7 linked regions of the Homo sapiens genome follow. The protein of the gene in region 1 purifies or fractionates together with the protein of each later gene. This does not show direct contact. Each region holds a gene or a part of one and is shown in the gene's direction. Other genes may lie near its edges.

Region 1 (4,154 bases):
ATCAACAGTAAGACAATAGCTGGAAGAGGGCCATGCAGATTTGAAGATCATCTGTTGTTTAAATCCTGAGGGTTTAGGAAAAGGAGAGGGAGAAATGCAACAGAGAGAGGAGACAATTGTTGTGAGAAAGCAAGTAACACTTGGTTGTCTTCTTAAAATGTGATGTGAGTACACCTACATACCTATAGGACTAGTAAAAAATCATGTCAAAATAGGATCTCAATCTATAAAAACCCTTTAATATAAATGCATTTTCCAGTTGAGAGTGTAGGGCTAATTCCAAATAAGGCTATTATTTCTGTAATTGTTTATAACAAACTAGACCTAACTCTGTGAAGCAATCCATTACTATTTTGTAGATGACAAAACTGAACTTTAATTTACCCTCCTATGGTTAGGAGAGAGGAAAGAGGTGGTTCACAAAAGGTCCTCTGAATCCAATGCTTAATCCTCTTCACGGTGCTCTTTGACAATACTCATGTGAGCTGTTAAATGAGTCATATAACATTCACTGAAGCTAGAATAAGAGAGATTTTGAAAAACAAAACAACAATCAATCCACATAATAACACCTAAATGAAATATTTTTTGTTTGCATCTTTTCTCAAGAAGCATAATTTTTTTTCATCAAGTATCAGAAGTGGAGGACACACTACTTTAGATATGTGTTAAAGAAAAAAGTAGCAGTGTAACAGAATGTCTCATAAGGGACTATATGCAAAACATGTGTTATATTATAATGAATAAAAAATTATCCCACCTTAGCAGGTACTTGGAATAAATTGTTAAAAGAAATATAATAGGAAATAGGGATACAAAAATTATTTCTCTGAAAAAAAGCATAATACCAAGATTAGCACCAAAATCAGGTAGTGCTTTCCAGATATCACATTTACATTTTTTCAAATACATATATTTATTTATTTTTCCCTTAGTCAAACACATTACAGCATCTATTTTATATCAGGAACAGATAAAATATGTCCATATAAACAGAAGACATTGGCTTTTAATTATTTGTATTCAATTTTTAAGAAATGATCATCTAGGGAAAATGTTTTAAAATCTTTTAAAATATCTTTTTGTTATACTTTAAAACTGCCTTCAGCTGCCTATTGGTAAATAAGGTCTGGATATCAGTACATGACAACATATACTAATGAATTGAACTGTGAATTAGGAATGAAAATTGCCTAGAAATTTTTTTATGAGTTATTAGGATTAAAGTAAGAATTTCCTTTGCTGGGCTGTGTAGGCACTAAGATTCCGTGGTTGTTGGAGGGGTTAAATTTGGATCTACTAGTGCATATATTTTACCGAGGATTCATAAAAACACGACAGTGGAGCCTGGGTCAATCCATTACCATGTACAAGCAGTGACCAATAGAAAAGGAAGAAGAAGATCCAAGAAGGCTGAGGTAAGCAGTCTTCTGAAGCCCTGTCAAAGTGGAAACAATAGATCAAAGGTGTTCATGGTGACTGGGACGAGTAGGTTTCACTGTTTCTCATAGACGACTTGACAGCTTAAAGTAAAAACAAATTATTTTCGTCAAAGTTTTTTTTTTTCTCTTAACTGATTTTTAGCAAACCTCAGACTGAGACACAGGACTCAACGGTGTATTCCTGGAAGGCAAGGTAAACTATTTTGCACTTTTAAAAACTCTTAAAGTTAAGCATGCAAAGTACTTATTCAACAGACGCAGGGTTACAACTTCAATAACTAAACCAAAACCCTATTCTGAAAAAGAAAAAAAAAAATGATGTTTCTTTGTTGGAACATGGCCAGAGCAGCGTTCTGCAATCCTAGAAAATTTGACAGCTTGCAGAAGCAGTTCTGCACTTGTTTTCTGCAATTTAATGGCAAAATTGAATGATCAGCATTTCATAAATGAAGTTGACTTTATCTTTTCCTAAGGAATCAGTAAAATTTATTTCATCCTATTATCAATCAGTTCAATAAATGTACATTGGTCAGAATGTTACTGATATATATATATATATATAAATATATATGTAACATATGTATGCTATAAATTATTAAAATATATATGTATATTTCCTGTTAAAATAATTATTTGTACCAATAATCTTTGATGATCAGTGGGGAGGGTTTATGTGTTTTAAATGTATCAAATATTAGTAAACGCTAACCTACTTTCCATTATCCACACTGATAATATGAATATAAAGAAATTCTCCACCCGTATCCTAAATATGTTTTTGGTTGTTTTTGTTTCTTATCAACCATAATAATGGCATAGTTGAATACAATACTCATGTACTTGTGCTATACATCACAATGTATTCAACTCTATATAATAAACTCTATCTCTATATATACATATATATACATATATAGAGACAGAATATACATATTCTCTGAGAGAGAGAGAGAGAGAGAAAGGGAGAGAGAGAGAGAATTGATAATTCAATAGCTTGGCTGAACAACTTAATTGTGTGCTTAAAATTATAGACATCTTCCCCCACCCTCAAAAAACTTACTTGAGAGGTTGAGCTAGAGAATAACAGATTAATTACATTTTTATTCAGATCCTAGAACCTTCCTTCACCATAAAGTGCTAAAATGTTCTTTGATCCCTTCATTCCTTTGGTTCAAGGGCCAAAAGGCCTAGGAAATCTCATCCAGATGTTCTGCTCATTTAAGAGTAAAAGTAAAAGCATATGCTTTCCTCTCAGGAACAACACAGATTCCCAGTTTGAGTTTTTAAAAGATCACTTTTTTGTACTCTCATATTCAACTACTGGTTTCAGTTCAGTTCTTTAAATTAAATAGCTTGAAATGGAAAAACACTTAGAGCTGCTAAAATTTTCTTTCCATTTCTCGGCTTTTATTGTGTTTGGGTTACAACCAGAAAGCTACAAGTCGGTGAATTATTCTCAATGTTTGCAAAATGCTTTGCATATGGTGCCTACTAACTAATGTATATTAATTAAGATCTGTGTATGAAATGTTGACATATTTTCACCTCTTCCCTGAAGAAGCAATGTTTACTGATCATTTTGATGTATAAAATTATCTAAAGGTCAAGATCTTCAAATATCTAACAGTTGTGTTCCTTTTTCTGTAGGTGCTATAATGGCAGGCACAATCTGTTTCATCATGTGGGTGTTATTCATAACAGACACTGTGTGGTCTAGAAGTGTGAGGCAGGTCTATGAAGTACATGATTCAGATGATTGGACTATTCATGACTTCGAGTGTCCCATGGAATGTTTCTGCCCACCCAGTTTTCCTACTGCTTTATATTGTGAAAATAGAGGTCTCAAAGAAATTCCTGCTATTCCTTCAAGAATTTGGTATCTTTATCTTCAAAACAACCTGATAGAAACCATTCCTGAAAAGCCATTTGAGAATGCCACCCAGCTAAGATGGATAAATCTAAACAAGAACAAAATAACCAACTACGGAATTGAAAAAGGAGCCCTAAGCCAGCTGAAGAAGTTGCTCTTCTTATTTCTGGAAGATAATGAGCTAGAGGAGGTACCTTCTCCATTGCCAAGAAGTTTAGAACAATTACAATTAGCTAGAAATAAGGTGTCCAGAATTCCTCAAGGGACCTTTAGCAATCTGGAGAACCTGACCCTTCTTGACCTACAGAACAACAAATTAGTGGACAATGCCTTTCAAAGAGACACTTTTAAAGGACTCAAGAATCTCATGCAGCTAAACATGGCCAAGAATGCCCTGAGGAATATGCCTCCAAGATTACCAGCCAATACAATGCAGTTGTTTTTAGACAACAATTCCATTGAAGGAATACCAGAAAATTATTTTAATGTGATTCCTAAAGTGGCCTTTTTGAGACTAAATCACAACAAACTGTCAGATGAGGGTCTCCCATCAAGAGGATTTGATGTATCATCAATTCTAGATCTTCAACTGTCGCACAATCAACTCACAAAGGTTCCCCGAATCAGTGCTCATCTGCAGCACCTTCACCTTGATCATAACAAAATTAAAAGTAAGTAACCTGCAGAGTATGTCTTTGACTAAAGGGCTCATGGTCATTAAATGTATCTTTATTTTCATTAAGAAGAGCAAATGTGTTGCCCCCTCCCCCGCTAATGTTCCTTTAGATTTTTAGTGTGTTTTCAATTTTCAGTATTAAATTTTGTCTATACGCAGACAGTCT
Region 2 (3,500 bases), on another chromosome or scaffold:
CATTAACTTTGAGAGAAAATCAAATGTGCGGTTCCCTAGACGTGGGGGTCGGTGTGATAAAGAGGCTAGAAGAGCTGAGCAAAGATTAGCCTGTGTTATTTAAAGCAACTAACGGTGCCAAAGTCAGCAAGAGAGGGACCTACAATAGTATAAATCACTAGGAGGGAGCACGTGGGCACATTTTTGAAAAATGAGGGAATCACCAAATATTGCCATTAGCTATTGTTAATGTATTAGAATGACGAAATGTGTTATGGTATTTTAGGAAGCACAATCTATTATTTTGTTCTTTGGTAATGTTAACATTAGGCTCTGTCTACATAGTTCAGAGAGACTCCTTATGTTGTTCAATCCAGACTCTCTAATCCTGCCTTTAAGGCCTTGAATTTTGTTCACGACAGATCTAGCATTTCATGATCCTCTTCAACCAGGCACTGCACCAGGCTCCTCACACAGAGCCCCGGCAGCTGTGCTGACGCCATCTGTCTGCCATTCTTCTCATGGAAACCAGTTTTGTCTTATCAGCATTTTCTAATGTGAGCTGCTTTCTGCCTAGAAACAGCTTCCTTTTCCTGGCAACCCATGTATCTCGTCTTCTTCAAAATGCAGTGGAGAACCCACCTCTTCTGGCGAATCTGCTTTATACCTCATAGCCTCTGCACTCCTGGACTCACTTGCTCAACATCATTTTTCTTTTACTAACATCTTACTGATTTTGCTGTGTTTCTCAGATATACCTTGTTACTCTGCTTCATACATTTTTAGCTCCATTAGGTAAAACACTGATCCTACTTTTCCTGAAACTTTAGGTACCAATTCTCAGCAAATGGTAATAACTCATTTATCCATTTATTGCACAAATATTTATTGAAAATCCACCATGTTTCATGCACTATCCTAGGCACTGGGAATACAGGGGGGAAAATAAGACATAGATCCCCCATCCCCACCCAAAGAGCTTGGGTCCAGGTCCCAGGAAATTTATTAACTGACTGCCTGAAAAACCAAGTGAGCTTAACTGTCAAGGATAAATTATAATCATGCAAAAACAACAAAAAATTTCTCCCCATAGTAATTTGTCCTAGATTATCAGGAAAATCATGGCTGACCTGAGTAGTTTCCCTTATAAATAAAGCATTGCTTTTGCTAATGCAGATATTCTCCCATACAAATGTAGGAAACAGATTTTTCTTACACACCATGGAGATACCTACAAAAGGCTGTGTTTGCACTATGGGAAGTCAGGAGCAAGTAGAGGGCAGTGGACTGTCATCAACACTCCTGGGAGAGCCACCTTTTCCAGAGCATCTGCACAGGGATGGGTATTCTGCTTTGAGTTTCTGACATCATTGTCCATTTTAGTAAATTTTGTATCATAGTGAGCTTTCTGGTATTTATGACAAATGGAAATGCATAGAAGTAGAAAAGCCAAACATAACGGAATTTAACAATGTATAATAATTTTATATGACTTTGCATAGATGTGTAAATAAGTAATTCCAGGATCTCAAAGTATAATTTTCAAAATAATATTGTGTTATTTAAATAAACTAATAAATTGACATTAACGTAATTGAAAATAGGTCAAAGAAATTCAGTCTGTTTATAGCCTTTAGCATTAGATAAACCACCAACAGCAAAGGAGAGGATAAATATTCTAAACCACAGCCAGAGAAGCCATAAATGGAAATGTAGTTAGTAGCTGCCTCCTGGTCACAGAGGTCACTTTTTTGACAATTTTATGAGTCCCAGTAAGTAAAATGTGTAATCACCAGTCAGTCCTAGGTGAGGCAAGTCTTGTTGCAGCTTTGTTTGGGTGTTGGTGGAGAAAGGGAAGGAAAGTAGTGGCAGTGAGCACAGTGGTATTTGTTTTTTGTTGTTGTTTGTTTTTATTAATTTAACTCACCTAATATTTTTATTAAATAACCCACTCAGAAGGTAAACAGACCTCATTCTTAAGAAGGAGTAGCACAGGTTTTTGTGTTTAAAATCTACTTAATGATACATTAATTCCACTGGAAATGTTAGCCTATTTATCAGACACTAAGAAATGAGCAACAAGAAAGTAGGAAGGAAGTCATAGGGCATCAGTTGTAGGAATGCAGCGGGGTGGAGGCAGTTTGCAGATAGATGTCAAAAAGAAAAGCCTCAGTCACTGCTGAGGCCTCCCTTAGAAAATGCAGCAGCCAGCCCAGGGCCTTGATCTGCTGCCAGAGGAAACTTGCCACATCTGAATCTAACATTGCCGTATCTCTCAGGACTGTTATCACTGCAAATGCTGGCAAATGTTCTTGACATAAAACAATAGATACTCTGCTGTCATTTCTGCATTAACGAGTCATAAAGCTCTGAAGAAACCCCAGTAAAAAGGTTTTCATCAAGTGCATCTGAGAAAATAATAAAAGACACAAAAAACAGCAGATAATTTCAAAGCAGGATTGTTGCACCATCGCATAGTACCTAAAAAGGACAGTTTGTAATCACTGACTTGAAAATAATACTAGTAGTAATTATAATAAATTTCAAAACAAAACAAAATAACAAAAACCTTAGCCAAAACTTTAAAACCAAGTTCAAAGAATTACGTAAGTGGATGCTTTATAGATTATTATCCAATAAATAGCCATACATCACTCAAGTATTTTTCATCTCCCCTCCCTCTTTCTTATCGAAAGAATCTCTCTTATCATTTCCACACCCAGCTAAGTGAAGCTGATTTCTGAGGACAACCCTTTTACAATCTCAACTTCATATATTATTATACTGCATAGTGTAAATGCGCAGTCCTCCTTGAAAATACAGAAAAGTGAAAGGCAAACCAACCTCAGGGTCTACTCTCAGAGATTCTTAGAGGGAAGACAGAAATTGGGTGAATTTTTTATTATTGATTCTTTCCCTACTTTTTCTTCCAACATACTACCATGAGTCTGCCACAGTGATGATCTAAGACCTCTGAAATCTGCCTCAGGGGTCTTAAATCATCACTGTGGTAGACCCAGGGTAGTATTTTGGTTTTTATACAAAAATTGTCATCTAGGAATCACAAGTTTTATGATATTGTTAATGAAGCTTAGAGTGGTTGTTGAAGAATGATGAAATTATATGATCCTTTTTTGTGTACTACTTAACTTCATGATATAGGAGAGCCGAATGAATATAAAAGTGATACAGATAAGGCAAAATTAGATTTTACTTATAAATTACTGTAAATATGAATGTACACACACAAATTTATATCACCTTTTGATCTGAAAGAAATTTCTTATAACTAGTTCATTATGCTATCACTGAGCATTTTTTACTTTTCTAGAACTGTAACCTGCATACTCATTAAGGCACATTTAGTAAATTATTCCAAGAAGTACACTGCTTTGAGAAAATATGGATTTTTAAACTACACAGGCTAGAGGAATATGATCAAATTGAATCCTTTGCATTCTGAAATTTGCAATGAAAGATTTATACATACATGTTGCCCTGCTGTTTGCAAAAACAAACAG
Region 3 (3,414 bases), on another chromosome or scaffold:
CACTTTGGGAGGCTGAGACAGGCGGGTCGTTTGAGCCCAGGACTTTGAGACCAGCCTGGGCAACATAAGGAGACCCTGTCTCTACAAAAAAATTAAAAATTAACTGGGTGTGGTGGTGTACACCTGTAGTCCCAGGTACTCAGGAGACTGAAGTGGGAGGATTATTTGAGCTCGGAAGGTTGAGGCCACGTTGAGCTGTGATTGTGCCACTGCACTCCAGTCTGGGTAACAGAATGAGATGAAAGAAAGAAGGAATGAAGGAAGGAAGGAAGGAAGGGAGTGAGGGAGGGAGGGAGGAAGAGAAAATGTGAATGGATGAATCTCATAAAAATAATGCACAAAAAAACAGATACAAGTGTGTATGTGAGAAAACATTTTAAATGGTCCATTTCTGAGGCATGATAAATCTAAGTACTGGCAGCCAGCCTGCAAATATAACAAACTGCAGGGCTCATCCACCTAGAAGGTCACAATAAGGGAACAGAATGTAGAGGCGGGGTCAGCCCATAAAAGGGAAGAAAGTGGCCGGCGCAGTGGCTCACGCCTGTAATCCCAGCACTTTGGGAGGCCGAGGCAGGCGGATCACGAGGTCAAGAGATCGAGACCATCCTGGCCAACATGGTGAAACCTCGTCTCTACTAAAAATACAAAAATTACGCAGGTGAGTGTGTTTCTCACATAGATAAAGTTCAGAATACAAACCAAACTAAACTACAGCATTAGGAATGCACCCTTAGGTGGTAAAATGAAAAGAAAAACAAGAAAGTGATTACCATAAGTATCAGCATAGTTGTTACTTCTGCGTAGAAAGGAAAGGATAGTGATAAGAAGAAGAGGAAGGGTTCTGGGATGCTGGAAATATTCCACTTCTTGGACTGTGTGGTAGTTAAACGGATGTTCACTTTGTGATAAATCATTCAGCTGTATATTTATGTTTTGTTTACTTTTCTGCATGTTATATTGCACAAATAAGATTCGAAAAACAAATGTCCAAGGTAGTCAATGCAATGTTAAAGATAACACGAAAAGACTGTAATTACAAAGCTTTGGTAGCTAGGACGATCCGTATGGATGAAGACAGGCAAAGGAATGAATGAAAAACAATTTAAAAATCCAGAAAAGACCATGAATCTAAAATATCTTGATATATAATAGAGGTGGCACATAATCACTGGAGAACAAAGAGAAACACCCTAGGACAGAACCTTGAGAACGCCTACAAGAAGCGATCTTGTAAGCGTTCCTCATAAACATCAAACTGGTTGAAATGTCCCCCGCCCTTCGTCGTTGGGATGTTTCAGATGCGTTGGCGCTTCCCGGCCTCGAGGGGGCATCTGGAGAACGGCGGGCGCCGGGAAAGTACGCATGCGCACTGCTCCCAGGGTTTGCGGTAAGAATCTATGCTCTCGCGCCCGGTTACGCACACTGCATTTACAGCGCGCATAGCGCCCACGCACGCGCACTGGGGTGTCCGCCGGGCATCGCTCTGTCCAGTTATTCCAGTTTCTCTGGGAGCAGCCGAGTTGACCCCACGGTCTGAGATGTCCAAGCTGCCCGCAGACAGCAGTGTCCCGCAGACAGGCGCGGCGAATGGTGACAGAGACGTCCCGCAGGCGGAGGTAGGCCGCGGGAGGCGGGAGCCGGCCCCGGCACAGCCTGAGGAGGCCGGGGAAGGCGCGATGGCGGCGGCCAGGGGAGGCCCGGTGCCGGCGGCCAGGGAAGGTCGGATGGCGGCGGCCAGGGCAGCCCCGGCGGCGGCAGCCAGGGGAGCCCCGGTGGCAGCGGCGGCGTTGGCCAGGGCAGCCGCGGCGGGCAGGGAAAGCCCGGCGGCGGCGGCGGCCAGGGAAGCCCGGATGGCGGAGGTCGCCCGCTTGCTGGGGGAGCCAGTGGACGAAGAGGGTCCCGAGGGCAGGCCCAGGTCCAGACACGGGAACGGAGGCCTGGCTGCGTTGCCCTATCTCCGTCTCCGCCACCCACTTAGCGTTTTAGGCATCAATTACCAGCAGTTTCTCCGCCACTATCTGGAAAATTACCCGATTGCTCCCGGCAGAATACAAGAGCTTGAAGAACGCCGCAGGCGATTCGTGGAAGCCTGCAGAGCAAGGGAAGCAGCGTTTGATGCCGAATATCAGCGAAATCCTCACAGGGTGGACCTCGATATTTTAACCTTTACGATAGCTCTGACTGCCTCTGAAGTTATCAACCCTCTGATAGAAGAACTTGGTTGCGATAAGTTTATCAATAGAGAATAGTTATGTGGTGACACTACTTCAAGAGAACCTCTGCATTCCAGTCATACCAATCCTGCAACTTGATTTTCAGAAGTCAAGAGTATATCGCGATAAGACAGTGCACAGGTGGAGGGGAAAAAAAGGGGGAGGGGGAAGCTTATCTTGAAAAAGCATCACAGAAGTAGAAAAAAATGTCGAAAGCATTATAACTGTAACGTTCTTTGAGTTTGTGATTGATCCACATTTTTCCCCCTGCATTATGGAAAATGTCTCTCAGCATTGCTTTATTACAAAGTAAAGGATGGTTTTATAAAATTGAGACTGATGAAACATCAATACTAGAGCCCATGAGGATGAAAGAAATTATCAAATAGTGCTGAACAGAATAAGATGTTAACGCTGAGTTATTAGGACTGGAAGGCTATGAAAAGAACTTGAAATTGTCGGAATATGTGCTCTCTTCATGTCATATTCAATAGAAGTTTCTAGTTTAAGATTGATTTTGTGTTTTCTTAGGCATTTCAAGTGACAAGCAAAGTAAATGTATATATTATGTGATAAATCATGTTTTCAAGAACGTCAAATTTCTGGACTTTTTTCTTTCAATTTTTAATTTTTAAAGTTTTTTTGGTATTAAAAAATCTATTCACAAGCCAAAAAATATATAAAATATACAGCGAAAAGCCTTCCATTCTTGTTTTCCTCCATCCAGTACCAACGATGACCTCTAATAGCCACAGTTTCCTTTCCGTCCTTCTAGTTTCCTTACGTGTACACAGGCACATATAAATCTGGGTTTACTTGTTTTATTTCTTCACAGAAGTCGGCATATTATATTTACTGGTTTATACATTGCTTTCTCATTAAGAACATATGTTGACCCTTCCAAACCACTGTATTTCCTCATTATTTTTTAAAGTGGCATTTTATTCCATTCTGAGGTTATGTCCAAATTTACTTAACCAGGGATATATTGACGGACATTTAGGTTGTTTCCCATCTCTTTCTTTGGGCAGAATAAAAAATTGCTAGAGTAGTTCATCTTGTACAATTGCTAGAGTAGTTCATCTTGTATATCATGTGGCATGTGCACAAATATAGTATTGCTTCAATTCAAAATTCACTTCATATTTGAACATCTCTGAAATGTGGGTGCATCTTATATTTGATGCTGTAATAGATC
Region 4 (3,121 bases), on another chromosome or scaffold:
TCCCTTTACAGACTGACCCTACCCTTTCTGTTACAAAATACAGAAACGTTGCCAGTGTTTTTTGGTTGGTTGGTTGGTTTGAGGTGTTTTGTTTTGAGGACTGTTCACTTTTCTTTCTTTCTCATCGCATGTAAACAAGACATTAAAGTTTAAACAAAATTTAATTTCACCTTAGTTCCTAAAGCTGACTTTATCTATTTGTCTGTGTTTCACTCAGTGTAACCTTGGGATCCCTGGAGCAGGTTTTTATTTTGTTTTCTTTTCTTTTTTCCTTGGAATGCTTGTGTCTCACGGCCAGTGTGTCTAAGGGTTAGGAGCTGCACCTTCCCGCAAGTCAAAAGGGCCAGCCGAATCCTGCCTGAGCCGGTGCTTTGCTGCTTCCTACACAGGTTTCAGACACACTGATCCTAATCTTCTCAGTCAAACTCCAAGACACACAGTGTCAACAGTTACGGCAGCCACAAGTTCATTATCTACATAGGGCGCAATTACTTGGCAGCTACCTAGACTGTGAGGTTTTTGTGGGTCCCCAAAGAACTCATATCCTGAAGAGAGAGACTAATCAAGGCGGGTCCTCTTGGCAGGGACATTGAAAGGGTGGGTTACAATTGATAGGAATTTTAATTTGTGAGGACTTAATCTGATATGCTTTTGGAACAAGATAGTGTAGATGTACTTATTGTCCATCTTCTGGGAGCATTCTTTGAAGATTCATTTGATTGTATGGTGATAGTATTGTTGAAAGGACACAGAATTTTATTACATGAATCTGCTTCTATCCTTCACCTGCCTAACTGCCCAGGGCCACTGCAGTGATTTATTCAGCCTGCATTGTGGTGAGGGAAGGGACGACTAATGTCTCAAACAGTGTGGTGTTCCCTAGTCTGCTCTCCTGCTTGCTGAAAGCTCCTTTTTGGGAAGGCAGATGCTTAGTTTTTCAGGAAGCACTCACTTAGGATGCAGTATTTTAGTTTTAAATAATACGCACTGGTTGACCTTTGAGCGGACAGAACTTTTGTTGCTAGAACCTGGTGGCACTGGTGTGGGTGATGTTAATTAAGGGCCAGGTCCTGACACCAACAAAGCCAGGAAGTTTGGAATATATAATCAAGACAAGCCAGAAGTAGCTACAGAGTGGGCCTGTACTGTCCTTCCGTCTCTCGTCTATTGAAAGTAGGGGCCCTGGATCCAGGAGGCCAGCTTATCAGGAGACAAGAGTGCATTCCTTTACCTGCCTTGGTCGGAGCACTTGAACACTTTTACAGAGCACTCCCAACCCCTACCATTCCCACCCCCAAGACAGGGTCTCACTCTGTTTAGGCTAGAGTGCAGTGGTGTGATCTTGGCTCACTGAAACCACAGGCTCAGGCCACCACACCAGCTAATTTTTTTTTTTTTTTTTTTTTTTTTTGTGAGGATGGGGTTTCGCCATGTTGCCCAGGCTGGTCTTGAACAACTGGGCTCAAGCAATCCACCTGCCTCGGCCTCCTAAAGTGCTGAAATTATAGGTGTGAGCCACTGCACCTGGCCTCCACAGTGTTTTTGAGGGTAAACGTATGCTATGCCACGTCAGGATGATCTGTCTTTGACTTCTGTCGGGTGAAAAACAGGATTGGGCATAGATGACTTCACCAAATCAATTGTGTTTTCAGGTTAAATAATGCCCTTTGTCACACCTTTTAGCATACAAAATTAGACTTACCAGTATTGTTGCCTTTAAATTTAATCCAGTCTTGCCTCAAGAGCAGCAGTTCTCAAAGTGTGATCTTTGGTTCCCTAGGGCCCTTTCAGGGAGTGTGCAGGGTCTGCCCTTGAGCAACATATCTGTGTGAGGCTGGATTTCCTTCATCTGCTTCAAGCAGAACAACATACTGCAACAGATTAAACACAGATGCAGATACAGGAATTCAGCTGTCTTCTGCAAATCTAGACATTAAAATGTAAAACAATGCCACTTTTTTAACTAAAAATATTTTTTTACATAATATAATTTTTTTCCTCAAAATATATTGTTTATATTCATTTTTCATACTTATTTTTAAATGAATTAATATTTTTAACTTTCTGTTTTAGTTTCTGATATAGTAAATAATGATAGATATTAGTCCACATAAAGAATGTTTTCGGTCCCTAATAATTTTAAGAATGTAAAGGGCAGGGCTTGAGGCCAAGAGGCTTGAGAACTGCTCACTAGGGGACCCTCTTGCTAGAAACACCTACTTCTCCGTTCTCTTGGTCCTGTGTAGTGGGAAATGGTATAGCACAGGCCTAGGTTTATGAGAACTGCTCACTAGGGGACCCTCTTGCTAGAAACACCTACTTCTCCGTTCTCTTGGTCCTGTGTAGTGGGAAATGGTATAGCACAGGCCTAGGTTTATACAAACTTTCAGAGAAAAATGGCTCCAGTGTTTACTATAAAACAAGTAGCAGATACGGTCAGATGACAGTCGTGGTGCTGATGGCCATTGCTAGTCCGGGAGCCCTTGGATGTGTGTGCCTGCCTTTCTCTTGATTCAGTACACATCGTTTGCTCTGTGTTCTGTCTGTGGCCCAGCAGCCCATTCTTGTTTTAAATATACGGACTTCAGTCTCTCACTTTAATTTTGCTCTTCTTATTAGCAATGGCTCGGGTAAAGCATTTTTTTCCCATTTAAGTTTTTTGGAGATCTGTTCCTGAAAGAACAGATTTGTTTGTTTTTGTTTTTTTAACTTTCAGTAGTTTTTGGGGAACAGGTGGGTTTTGGTTACATGGATAAGTTCTTTAGTGGTGATTTCTGGGACTTTGGTGCACCCAGCACCTAAGCAGTGTACACTGGTATGTTGTCTTTGTTTTATCCCTCCACCCCTCCCACTCTTCCATCCTGAGTGCCCAAAGTCCATTATATCATTCTTATGCCTTTGCATCCTCATAGTTTAGCTCCAACTTATATAAGTGAGAACATATGATATTTGGTTTTCCATTCCTGAGTTACTTCATTTAGAATCATGGCCTCCAGCTCCATCGAAGTTGCTACAAAATACATTATTTTTTTCCTTTTTATGGCCGAGTATAATATTCCATGATGTATAAATATCACATTTTCTTTATCCACTCGTTGGTTGATGGGCACTTAGGTTGGTT
Region 5 (3,500 bases), on another chromosome or scaffold:
CATCCAGGTTATAGTATAATGGCTAATTGTCTCAATTGATTTTCCTCTTAGATGGGCCCTTCTGTTATCTCCTATTACCTATAAAGGAGAAGCTATTTGAATTGACTGTAGGTGAAACTGGGCGACATCTTCCTCTGATGGAAATGTGGGGAAATTAATTATAAAAGTTATTTCAGTCCAAGTTGCCATCTAACAACCTTAGATGTAGCTCCATGTGTTCTGACTAAACATTTAATTTTTATAATTTCCTTTGTAGCTTTTAGATGGGATGATAGAATTATTTAAAGATAAAAATATGGGCTCTGCTTGACGGTACTCCAATTTTGTATGCCTCAACATTTTAATATAGTTAATGAATGCTGGGTACTTCAGGATATAAGATTTGAAATCTAAAACTCAATGGATAATGTGGCTTAGGACTCTGATGTATGTTTTCCTAATTATCAAGTTAAAAGCATCTGCTATCATGTAATTCAAAATGAAACGTTATTGAAATACAGTGTTTATAGCAGCCTTGATATGAAAGAGATGTGTTTTATATGCTTTCTACAATGTTTGCTGCTGTAAAAAAAAAATTGGGACTTTTTCTGGAGATAAAACTATTTTAAAAATTGATCTTCTAATTACCTTCTTCTGATTGAAGAAATCAATATAGAAGTATAATGTTATTATAAAAAGTTAGAAAATAAAAGCTAAGTTAAGGCACTGTTTCTATTAACCTTGTAGAAATTCTTATAGCCTGTAACACTAGTGACCTTGTTAAATTAAAAGCTATATCCCTGCTACTTAGTGTGGTACCTACCACATAGGAGGTATTTAATGAGTATTTGTTAAATAGAAGATTAGAGTCAGCTAGGCAGCCTTTAAGATGACAGTAATACTTTTAGGCCACAACAGAATAGGCAGTGTGCTGCTCTAAGCCCTTTCATACATGATAGTTAATTTTTACAACAATTCTATGAGGTTTTACAAATGAAAAAAATAGAAACAGACAGAGCTTATATCCCCTAGGCCACAAAGATTATAAGCAATGGAATTTGAGCTCAAGTGTGACTAGCCAGCCCTCTAACACACATCCTTTTACCACACCACACTGCCTTCTTGCTTTATGTGAACTTCTTTGGATTATGTATGAAACTATTGACAAATGAGTATGCTACCTCTTATTAACTTTTTCATAGAGTTATCAGTGGCATCTAAATTATTACTTGTATAACTTTTAAAATCTAATACCAAATAGCTATAAGAATCTGTAGCAAATATCATCCTCAATGGTGAAACATCAAAAGTATTTCTTTTCTTTTCTCATTAGAAATAAAACAAGGTTGCCCACTGTTACCATTCTATTAAACATGGTAATAGTGTCTTAGACATGATATATAAAGAGAAAATTGATAAATTGTGCTGCATCAAAATTTAAAATTTGAGCTCTGTTAAAAGACACTGTTAAGAGAATGAAAAGACAATCTACAGGCTGGGAAAAAATATTTGCAAACCACATTTCCAACAAAAACTGGTATCTAGAGTCTATAAAGATTCTTAAAACTTAACAGTCAGAAGGCAAATAGCCTAATTTTACAAATGAGCAAATAGTAGGCCAGTGTGAGTTATCAAAGATCAGAGCCCAAGCAAGGTAAGGACATCTATGGTGGGGAGAGGTAACCACTAGTGATGGACGTTAAGCCCAAACAGGATGAAGATGGCATTCCTGTGAAGGGGCAGCCTGGAATGGGATGTAGGAGCCCAAGTAAGGTGAAGTATGTGTCCCTGTGTGAGTGCAGCCCCTATGGGCTGTCAGAACCCAAGCAGGTAGAGTGGAGCATCTGCCCAGGGAGTAAGGTTAGTGGTGGAGATGGGAGATGGGTCACATACAGTGGACTTGAGCAAGAAAGTAAATATATGAAGGGTAACAAAATACATTAAGGATAATGAAAACAAATTTTTAACTGTTGGAGAGGGGAATTACAGATACTGAAAGGAAGAAAACTAGAATGAACCATGTAGTTATTAGATTGGAATTGGATATATTTTTGTGAACTCATAGATTTCAATGTATTTAGGTAGATATAGAAGTAAAATTAAAGGTAAATGTGAAAAAAAAAATGAGCAAAAGACTTGAACAAACACTTAACCAAAGAGGATAGAGGGATGGCAAATAAGTACATGAAAAGTTATTGGACATCATTAGTCATTAGAGAAATGCAAATTAAAACCATGATGAGATACTAGTACCTACCCGTTAGAATGGCTAAAATAAAAAAAACACTGACAATACCAAGTACTGATAAGGACGCAGAGAGCTAATGCAACTCATTATTGCAAGGGCAAACAATAACCAGAACATCTCTGAAGAAGGACCAGACAGAAGTACTCTTCCTATTAAATTTCAAGGATAATTATAAAACTTCAGTAACTAAGACCATGTATTGGCCTGGGAATAGAAAAATGCACCATAGAACAAAATGCAGTGCCCAGAAACAGATACCTGCATATAAACTGTGTTTTATGATACTGTTGCTATGGGCAAAAGTTAGTGGTATTTGGACAATAAACTATACATGTGAGAAAAGGATGAATGCAGATCCCCACTTCATACCATTCACAAAAATTAATTCCTGATAGGCTAAGGACTTCACTATGAAAGATAAAGCCTTAAAACTTTTAGAAAAAGCATAAGAAATTATCTTTATGATCTTAGGAAGGATAAATACATACGTGGTAAAAATTTAAAGTAAAGCAAGGGAAAAATAACACAAAATTCCAGAAGAGTTAAATCTAGGGGAGAGAGAGAATGACTGGGAAGGGGCCCAATCACTTTTGAAGCCCTCCCAGGGCTTTAAAAATGCTAGTTATGTTCTATTATGTATAGATGTTTACTTTATTTTTTAACTAATTCCTATATTTCTTCTGTTTAGTTGTAATTGATTTCAAGGTAAAAAATTTAACTTGTATATTTTACACTTGTCTGAAAATTATGATTATTGACAAAGCAGCTACCTCCTTCCTGTACCACATCCAAATGACTTTATTTATTTTTTGTTTGTTTAAGACAAGATCTCCTCAGTAGCTGGGAATACAGACATGTGCCACGATGTCTGGCTGATTTTTGTATTTTTTATAGGGACGGGGTTTCACTATGTTGCCCAGGCCAGTCTCAAACTCCTGAACTCAAGTGATCCACCAACCTTGGCCTCCCAAAGTACTGGGATTACAGGCATGAGCCACTGTACCCAGCCAATAATTTGATTTTCTTATACCTGTGAAACATTAGTTTCCCACTAGTATCTGCTTAAAGGGCTGCGTTGTTAAGGTTGTGGTGAATGTAGTATATGGTACTTCAGTACTTTAATCTCTTTCTTTTTTTCAGTCACCCAGTGAAGTTTATTCTTGGAAGAGACCATCATCTTTGCATAAACGAAGTGGCACTGATACATCATTCTATAGAGGAAAGAAGAAAAGGGGGACTCCAAAACAAAGCAATTGTGTGACTCTTTTAGATA
Region 6 (2,217 bases), on another chromosome or scaffold:
TAAAAATCATGTAATTTATAACTATTTCGTGGACAATATATACATGAGATAAGATATAAAGTGTTTGCATAGTGTTTAACCAGTATTAGGTATTGGATATTTTTAGATGGTATCATTATTTTTAAAATGTAACTGACAAATTTGTACCTTAAAAAAACGAAAAGTTTATTGTTGGCATTTTGATATTCTATATGTGGTCATGTACTTTAAAAAAATTGTTTTCTTCAATTACAGTCTAGTTTTAGGCTTCTGCTTTCTGATTATTTGCATTGGGTTTCTGTCCAAAGTGATTTCCAGATGTTTGAACCATTCAGGACACAAAGTGTCCCGGGCATGTTCATCAGCAACTTGTTCTTTTGCTCCATTTCATTAGGAGAGACAATAGAAGATGCTGTTAGGAGAGAAGTAGAAGAGGAAAGTGGAGTCAAAGTTGGCCATGTTCAGTATGTTGCTTGTCAACCATGGCCAATGCCTTCCTCCTTAATGATTGGTTGCTTAGCTCTAGCAGTGTCTACAGAAATTAAAGTTGACAAGAATGAAATAGAGGATGCCCGCTGGTTCACTAGAGAACAGGTAAAGTTCAATTTAATTTCCTTCTTCTATTGATTGTTCCCTGACTGTATTGGTTTGGTCACAGAGCAAGGATGCATATTTTCAGCAAGTTGAATGATGCCTTTGGCCCTCTCATTATGCATGGATTACATGGTAATTAGTAATTCCATACAGGAGGAGTATGTTTCACTAATGTGATCTATATTAACTTATTCTATGAGATTTTTCTAGTAGAGATGATTCTGTACCATTTCGAGTTTCAGATTCCATTCCTTCACATAAATAATAATACCTATCAGTGGGTTTAGAAAAACATTAATTCATAGATGAGAAACAGGAATATTCTTATACATTTTATATTTTAGTTTATAACATTAAAACAAGTAGCTCTCAAAAAACATCAGTAAGTGCTTAAAATTTTCAGAAAGTTTTTATTCATTTTAAAATGTACTTAAGGACAAGAATGACATAACTGTATAATAAACATACACTTAAAATAACTTTCTAAAATGTCATTCCTAAATAATATATTAAAAGATAAATTACTCATCTGACCTGAAATTCTTTCTGACTTTGCCTGCATAAAATTAATTTTATTCTATGCTTAATCCTAAAAGATGGAAATTAGATTATTGCTTATGAATTTTATAAAAAAGAATCTGTTTCAAAAGTTGGCTTTGCTTAGAAATTAAGTGTGGAGCGTACATTTTGCTTTTTCGTGATGTCATTTTCATAAGGGAATGTGTCTTTCTGGAACATTTTAGAAACTGAATCACTTACTCAGTGAAGCAATTAAAAATGCTGTCCTAAATTTTGCATGTTGAGGCGGGGCGTGGTGGCTTATACCTGTAATCCCAGAACTTTGGAAGGCCAAGGCAGGAAGCTTGATTGAGCCCAGGAGTTTGAGACTAGCCTGGGCAACATAGGGAGACCCTGTCTCTACAGATAATTTTTAAAAAGTTAGCCAGGTGCACCTATGGTACCAGCTACTTGGGAGGCTGTGGCAGGAGGATCGCCTGAGCCCAGGAAGTCAAAGCTGCAATGAGCCATGATCCCACCACTGCAACTCCAGTCTGGGTGGCAGAGTGCAAGACCTTGTTTCCAAAAAAAAAAAAACTTTGCATGTAAATATGGATGTTGTCACTTTCTACTGTTGTTATTCACTGTAAAACTCATCACATTTTAATTGAATTATGTAAACATGGGAATAGTATTTAAATATGACAGCTTTGAAATCCTAATGCATTCTATTATGGTGTGTTTTAGGTCCTGGATGTTCTGACCAAAGGGAAGCAGCAGGCATTCTTTGTGCCACCAAGCCGAGCTATTGCACATCAATTAATCAAACACTGGATTAGAATAAATCCTAATCTCTAAATCTAAGAACTAAGCTTTGAGTATTATTTAATAATTTCTAATAACACTCATTCCTCAAGTGATATTAGAGATTATTCAGTACTCTTGAGAGTGTCACAACACAAAATACGATGTTGGGTTTTCGAAATATTTTCAAAGTGTTCTGTCTTAATCACAAATTCATATTTTTACACATTTTTACAATATTGCCTCAGATTATGTTAAATTTGGGTCAGTCTTCTCTGAACTTTTTCTCTCTTGGTTTCTTTTCTTCCTTCACAGTTTTATCTCACAAAACCATTTTTCTAA
Region 7 (3,500 bases), on another chromosome or scaffold:
GAACCGTTTTAATGTCTCTCAGAAAAAGGTTCAGTGACACTGGCCTTCTTTATTGCCTGCATAAAGCATAAAATGTTACTATCTTCAGAGTATCTTGGCAAGGCTGATTTGGATACTTTAATCTGGTGTTTAACAAGCTAACAGTCTGTGCTTTGAAAGGGCTAGTTCATCTCTAAGGGGATAGTTTATTTCAAAGTGAATATTTCACTGCACTGGGGGACCACCAGCTTGAGCACAGTTTGTGTCACTCAGAAAGCAATGAAATGATTTTGGCATGGAATAAGTGATGGATAAGTGATCAGCCGACATATGAGTCTGAATCCAGAATGGGATTTTCTGCGTGTGGCGAGAACGCATACCCAACGTTTCATTATGCTACTTCAACAGGCACAAACATCAACGAAGCACTCCTACGGGCAATCTTCATTTTGAATGAAGCCAATAACTTGGGACTGTTAGACCCCAACTCCGTCTCGCTGATCATTTTGGTTTCTGATGGAGATCCAACAGTGGGCAAGTGTCACTTCAACCTTCTCACGACAAACACTTTCACTGTTGTTTCTTGGAATGGTGGTTTGCCTAAAAGGGGAACTCTAATGGCATTTGCCTGAGTTTCTAGAACATTTTAAACCCATGCTTCCTAAAGGAGGTCTTCTGATCCTGCAGCCCTCACCCCTTAAGCTACTGCTCAGACACTTTCAGCAAGGGCGCTCTTGAATGCCTCAGTTCCACCTCCACAATATGCAGAAATCTGAGTCTGAATTTTAATAGTATGTTGTGAGGATTGCTGATGCATTCTAGGGAAATGCATCTATTTCCTCAACTTGAGGTATGTGAAGATGGTGTATGGGGGTGGTGAATGATGAGTATTGATCCCAGATCTCCCAGCAGTACCTTTGGAGGCCACAGTAGCATATTCCCTATTATTCTCCACACTTCTCCCGGTTGCACCTGGAGAAATGACTGCTCTCTGACACAACCTTGAAGTTAAACATTTTTCTTTCTACAAAATGGGCAGCAACATCTCCCTACTTCTATTATTTATTTTTATTTTTGTTACATTAGTTTATTTTATTTATTTTTGAAGACAGGGTCTTGCTCTGTCACCCAGGAGGGAGTGCAGTGGAGCACACACAGCTCACTGCAGCCTCAACCTCCCATGCTCAAGTGATCCTCCTACCTCAGCCTCCTGAGTAGCTGGGACTACAGGTGTGCACCACCACACTCAGCTAATTTCTTTTTTTTCTTTCTTTTTTTTTTTGGAGAGACGAAGTCTCACTATGTTGCTCAGGCTGATCTCAAAATCCTGGGCTCAAGCAGTCCTCCCACCTCGGACTCCCAAAATGTTGAGATTACAGGTGTGAGCCACTGTGCCAAGCTATCTTTGTTTTACTTGTGTCTTTATTCTGGCCACTGTAAGTAATAGCGAATGCCAGATTGTGTTGCCTGAGTGTGCTGTCGTACAGACTAGGACCGAGTCTAACACGTCCTGACACAGCCAAGCAGAATGAAAATGCACGAGGCAAAAACAATGGCAGTCAGAGCTTTAGAAAGCCAGAGAGCAACCATCTTATTAATAACGAGACTAGAATGAGCCAGTGTTATGTATTTGTTGTAGAGCCAATGTTTTCTCCCTCAGATCAGATTATTTTCAAAATTCAAGTTTTGAATGAAATCATAAGGTGGAAAAGGAAATATAGTTTAAAATATTAAACTTGCCAGGCATGGTGGCTCACACCTGTAATCCCAGCACTTTGGGAGGCTGAGGTGGGTGGATCACCTGAGGTCAGGAATTCAAGACCAGCCTGGCCAACATGGTGAAACCCCATCTCTACTAAAAATACAAAATTAGCCTGACAGGGCGGCGTGTGCCTGTAATCCCAGCTATTCGGGAGGCTGAGACAGGAGAATCCCTTGAACCCAGGAGGCGGAGGTTGCAGTGAGCTGAGATCGTGCCACTGCACTCCAGCCTGGGCAACAAAGTGAGACTCTGTCTCAAAAAAAAAAACAAAATTAAACCATAATTTGGTTTAATCATGGTTTCTCACTCCTGTTTCTCAACCATTCAGTTCCTGTCCCTGGAATCAGTCACTGGTTACCAGTTTCTTGTGTATCTTTCCACAAATAGTTTATGCATGCCTGTATACTATATATACATGTTTGCACACATGTATGTGTATATGCATACATACACATACATACATTTATACATGCATGCATGCAAATGCATCCTAGGTACCCTGATATTTACCTTGTTTTTTTTTTCTCCTCTAAACATGCCCTTGAGATTGTCTGGTATACATACATAAGGAGTTTCCATGTCCTTTTTAATAGCTGCATAGTATCTCACGGTTTAAATGTATCATCATCTAACCAAGCGCCCTCATTGGTGCATATTTATGTTGTTTCCAATATGTTGCTAATTCCCAAATAATGTTGCTATGCAACACAACCCACACTTCATTTCAACATGTACGAGTGCATCTCTAAGAAAAACTAGAAATTGAGTTACTGGGTCAAAAGGGAAATGCAGTTTTAATCTGGACACACTTTACTAAACTGCCCTCCCTGGATTTTCCAGAAAATTTATGATATTGCTTCTTCATTCCTTTCCTTTCGGACATCACCAACTTTAGGCGAACTAAAACTGTCAAAAATTCAGAAAAACGTTAAGGAGAACATCCAAGACAATATCTCCTTGTTCAGTTTGGGCATGGGATTTGATGTGGACTATGATTTTTTGAAGAGACTGTCCAATGAAAACCATGGAATTGCACAAAGGATTTATGGAAACCAGGACACGTCTTCCCAGCTTAAGGTAACATTTTCTTCTGTTCTTTTTTTATTCTTCACTGGAAATCATTTAACTACCCATATCTGATGCAGGTATGATGCATAACTGAACTTAACTCAAAATGGTCATGATCTCAGCCATATTTGGTTGCAAGGATCAGGGAAGTGCCCAGTTCCTTTCTCACATGTTTCCCCCCACCCTCATATTTCTGCAGTAACAGTGAGGTATGAGGCAGATGGGTGTTGGGAACAGCTGTCCTACCCCCTGAACAAAAAGGCCTTCTGAGCGTCATCAAAGCTCCTTGTAGCTCTCCTGCCCCACCAGCAATTGGTCTTCTTATCATCATGGCCAACCGTTTTCTCTTTAACGTGCATTGGCATCTTGGTATCAATTTTTCACAGTGTAAATTTTCTTAAGTATTAAGATACAGGCTGAGTGTGGTGGCTCATGCCTGTAATCCCAGCTCTTTGGAGGCCAAGGTGGGAGGATCACTCGAGCCCAGAGGTTTAAGGCCAGCTTGGGCAACATAGTGAGATCCATCTGTTCAACAGATAATTTTTTTAATTAAAATACATATATTGAAAAGACACAAACTACTTGTTTGTTTTGATTAAATAGATGAGAAAATGATGTAGGGAAAGAACATGTTTTTCCCTGCTCTTTGTCAGTACCAGGCATCGTATTTAAATTTGGGAACAAGTAAGAG

Evidence for each region.
Region 2: the proteins of KERA (region 1) and EFEMP1 purify together in Homo sapiens (co-immunoprecipitation; one large-scale study listed by IntAct). This does not show direct contact.
Region 3: the proteins of KERA (region 1) and EID2 purify together in Homo sapiens (affinity purification with mass spectrometry; 2 studies listed by BioGRID and IntAct, with this or other methods). This does not show direct contact.
Region 4: the proteins of KERA (region 1) and BLMH purify together in Homo sapiens (affinity purification with mass spectrometry; 2 studies listed by BioGRID and IntAct, with this or other methods). This does not show direct contact.
Region 5: the proteins of KERA (region 1) and VWA8 purify together in Homo sapiens (affinity purification with mass spectrometry; 2 studies listed by BioGRID and IntAct, with this or other methods). This does not show direct contact.
Region 6: the proteins of KERA (region 1) and NUDT12 purify together in Homo sapiens (affinity purification with mass spectrometry; 2 studies listed by BioGRID and IntAct, with this or other methods). This does not show direct contact.
Region 7: the proteins of KERA (region 1) and ITIH2 purify together in Homo sapiens (affinity purification with mass spectrometry; one large-scale study listed by BioGRID and IntAct). This does not show direct contact.

Annotation. Positions count from the first base shown.
Region 1 is NC_000012.12:91,055,225-91,059,378, reverse strand, and holds the start of KERA (keratocan precursor), read left to right. Parts: upstream 1-1,354; 5' UTR 1,355-1,635; intron 1,636-3,089; 5' UTR 3,090-3,097; coding exon 3,098-3,983; intron 3,984-4,154. UniProt on the Homo sapiens protein: May be important in developing and maintaining corneal transparency and for the structure of the stromal matrix.
Region 2 is NC_000002.12:55,882,283-55,885,782, reverse strand, and holds part of EFEMP1 (EGF-containing fibulin-like extracellular matrix protein 1 precursor), read left to right. Parts: intron 1-3,500. UniProt on the Homo sapiens protein: Binds EGFR, the EGF receptor, inducing EGFR autophosphorylation and the activation of downstream signaling pathways. May play a role in cell adhesion and migration. May function as a negative regulator of chondrocyte differentiation.
Region 3 is NC_000019.10:39,538,207-39,541,620, reverse strand, and holds EID2 (EP300-interacting inhibitor of differentiation 2), read left to right. Parts: upstream 1-1,459; 5' UTR 1,460-1,541; coding exon 1,542-2,252; 3' UTR 2,253-2,914; downstream 2,915-3,414.
Region 4 is NC_000017.11:30,250,824-30,253,944, reverse strand, and holds part of BLMH (bleomycin hydrolase), read left to right. Parts: intron 1-1,711; exon of another isoform or gene 1,712-1,871; intron 1,872-3,121. UniProt on the Homo sapiens protein: The normal physiological role of BLM hydrolase is unknown, but it catalyzes the inactivation of the antitumor drug BLM (a glycopeptide) by hydrolyzing the carboxamide bond of its B-aminoalaninamide moiety thus protecting normal and malignant cells from BLM toxicity.
Region 5 is NC_000013.11:41,685,110-41,688,609, reverse strand, and holds part of VWA8 (von Willebrand factor A domain-containing protein 8 isoform a precursor), read left to right. Parts: intron 1-3,367; coding exon 3,368-3,500. UniProt on the Homo sapiens protein: Exhibits ATPase activity in vitro.
Region 6 is NC_000005.10:103,550,573-103,552,789, reverse strand, and holds part of NUDT12 (NAD-capped RNA hydrolase NUDT12), read left to right. Parts: intron 1-373; coding exon 374-573; intron 574-1,818; coding exon 1,819-1,929; 3' UTR 1,930-2,217. UniProt on the Homo sapiens protein: mRNA decapping enzyme that specifically removes the nicotinamide adenine dinucleotide (NAD) cap from a subset of mRNAs by hydrolyzing the diphosphate linkage to produce nicotinamide mononucleotide (NMN) and 5' monophosphate mRNA.
Region 7 is NC_000010.11:7,727,316-7,730,815, forward strand, and holds part of ITIH2 (inter-alpha-trypsin inhibitor heavy chain H2 precursor), read left to right. Parts: intron 1-387; coding exon 388-513; intron 514-2,636; coding exon 2,637-2,818; intron 2,819-3,500. UniProt on the Homo sapiens protein: May act as a carrier of hyaluronan in serum or as a binding protein between hyaluronan and other matrix protein, including those on cell surfaces in tissues to regulate the localization, synthesis and degradation of hyaluronan which are essential to cells undergoing biological processes.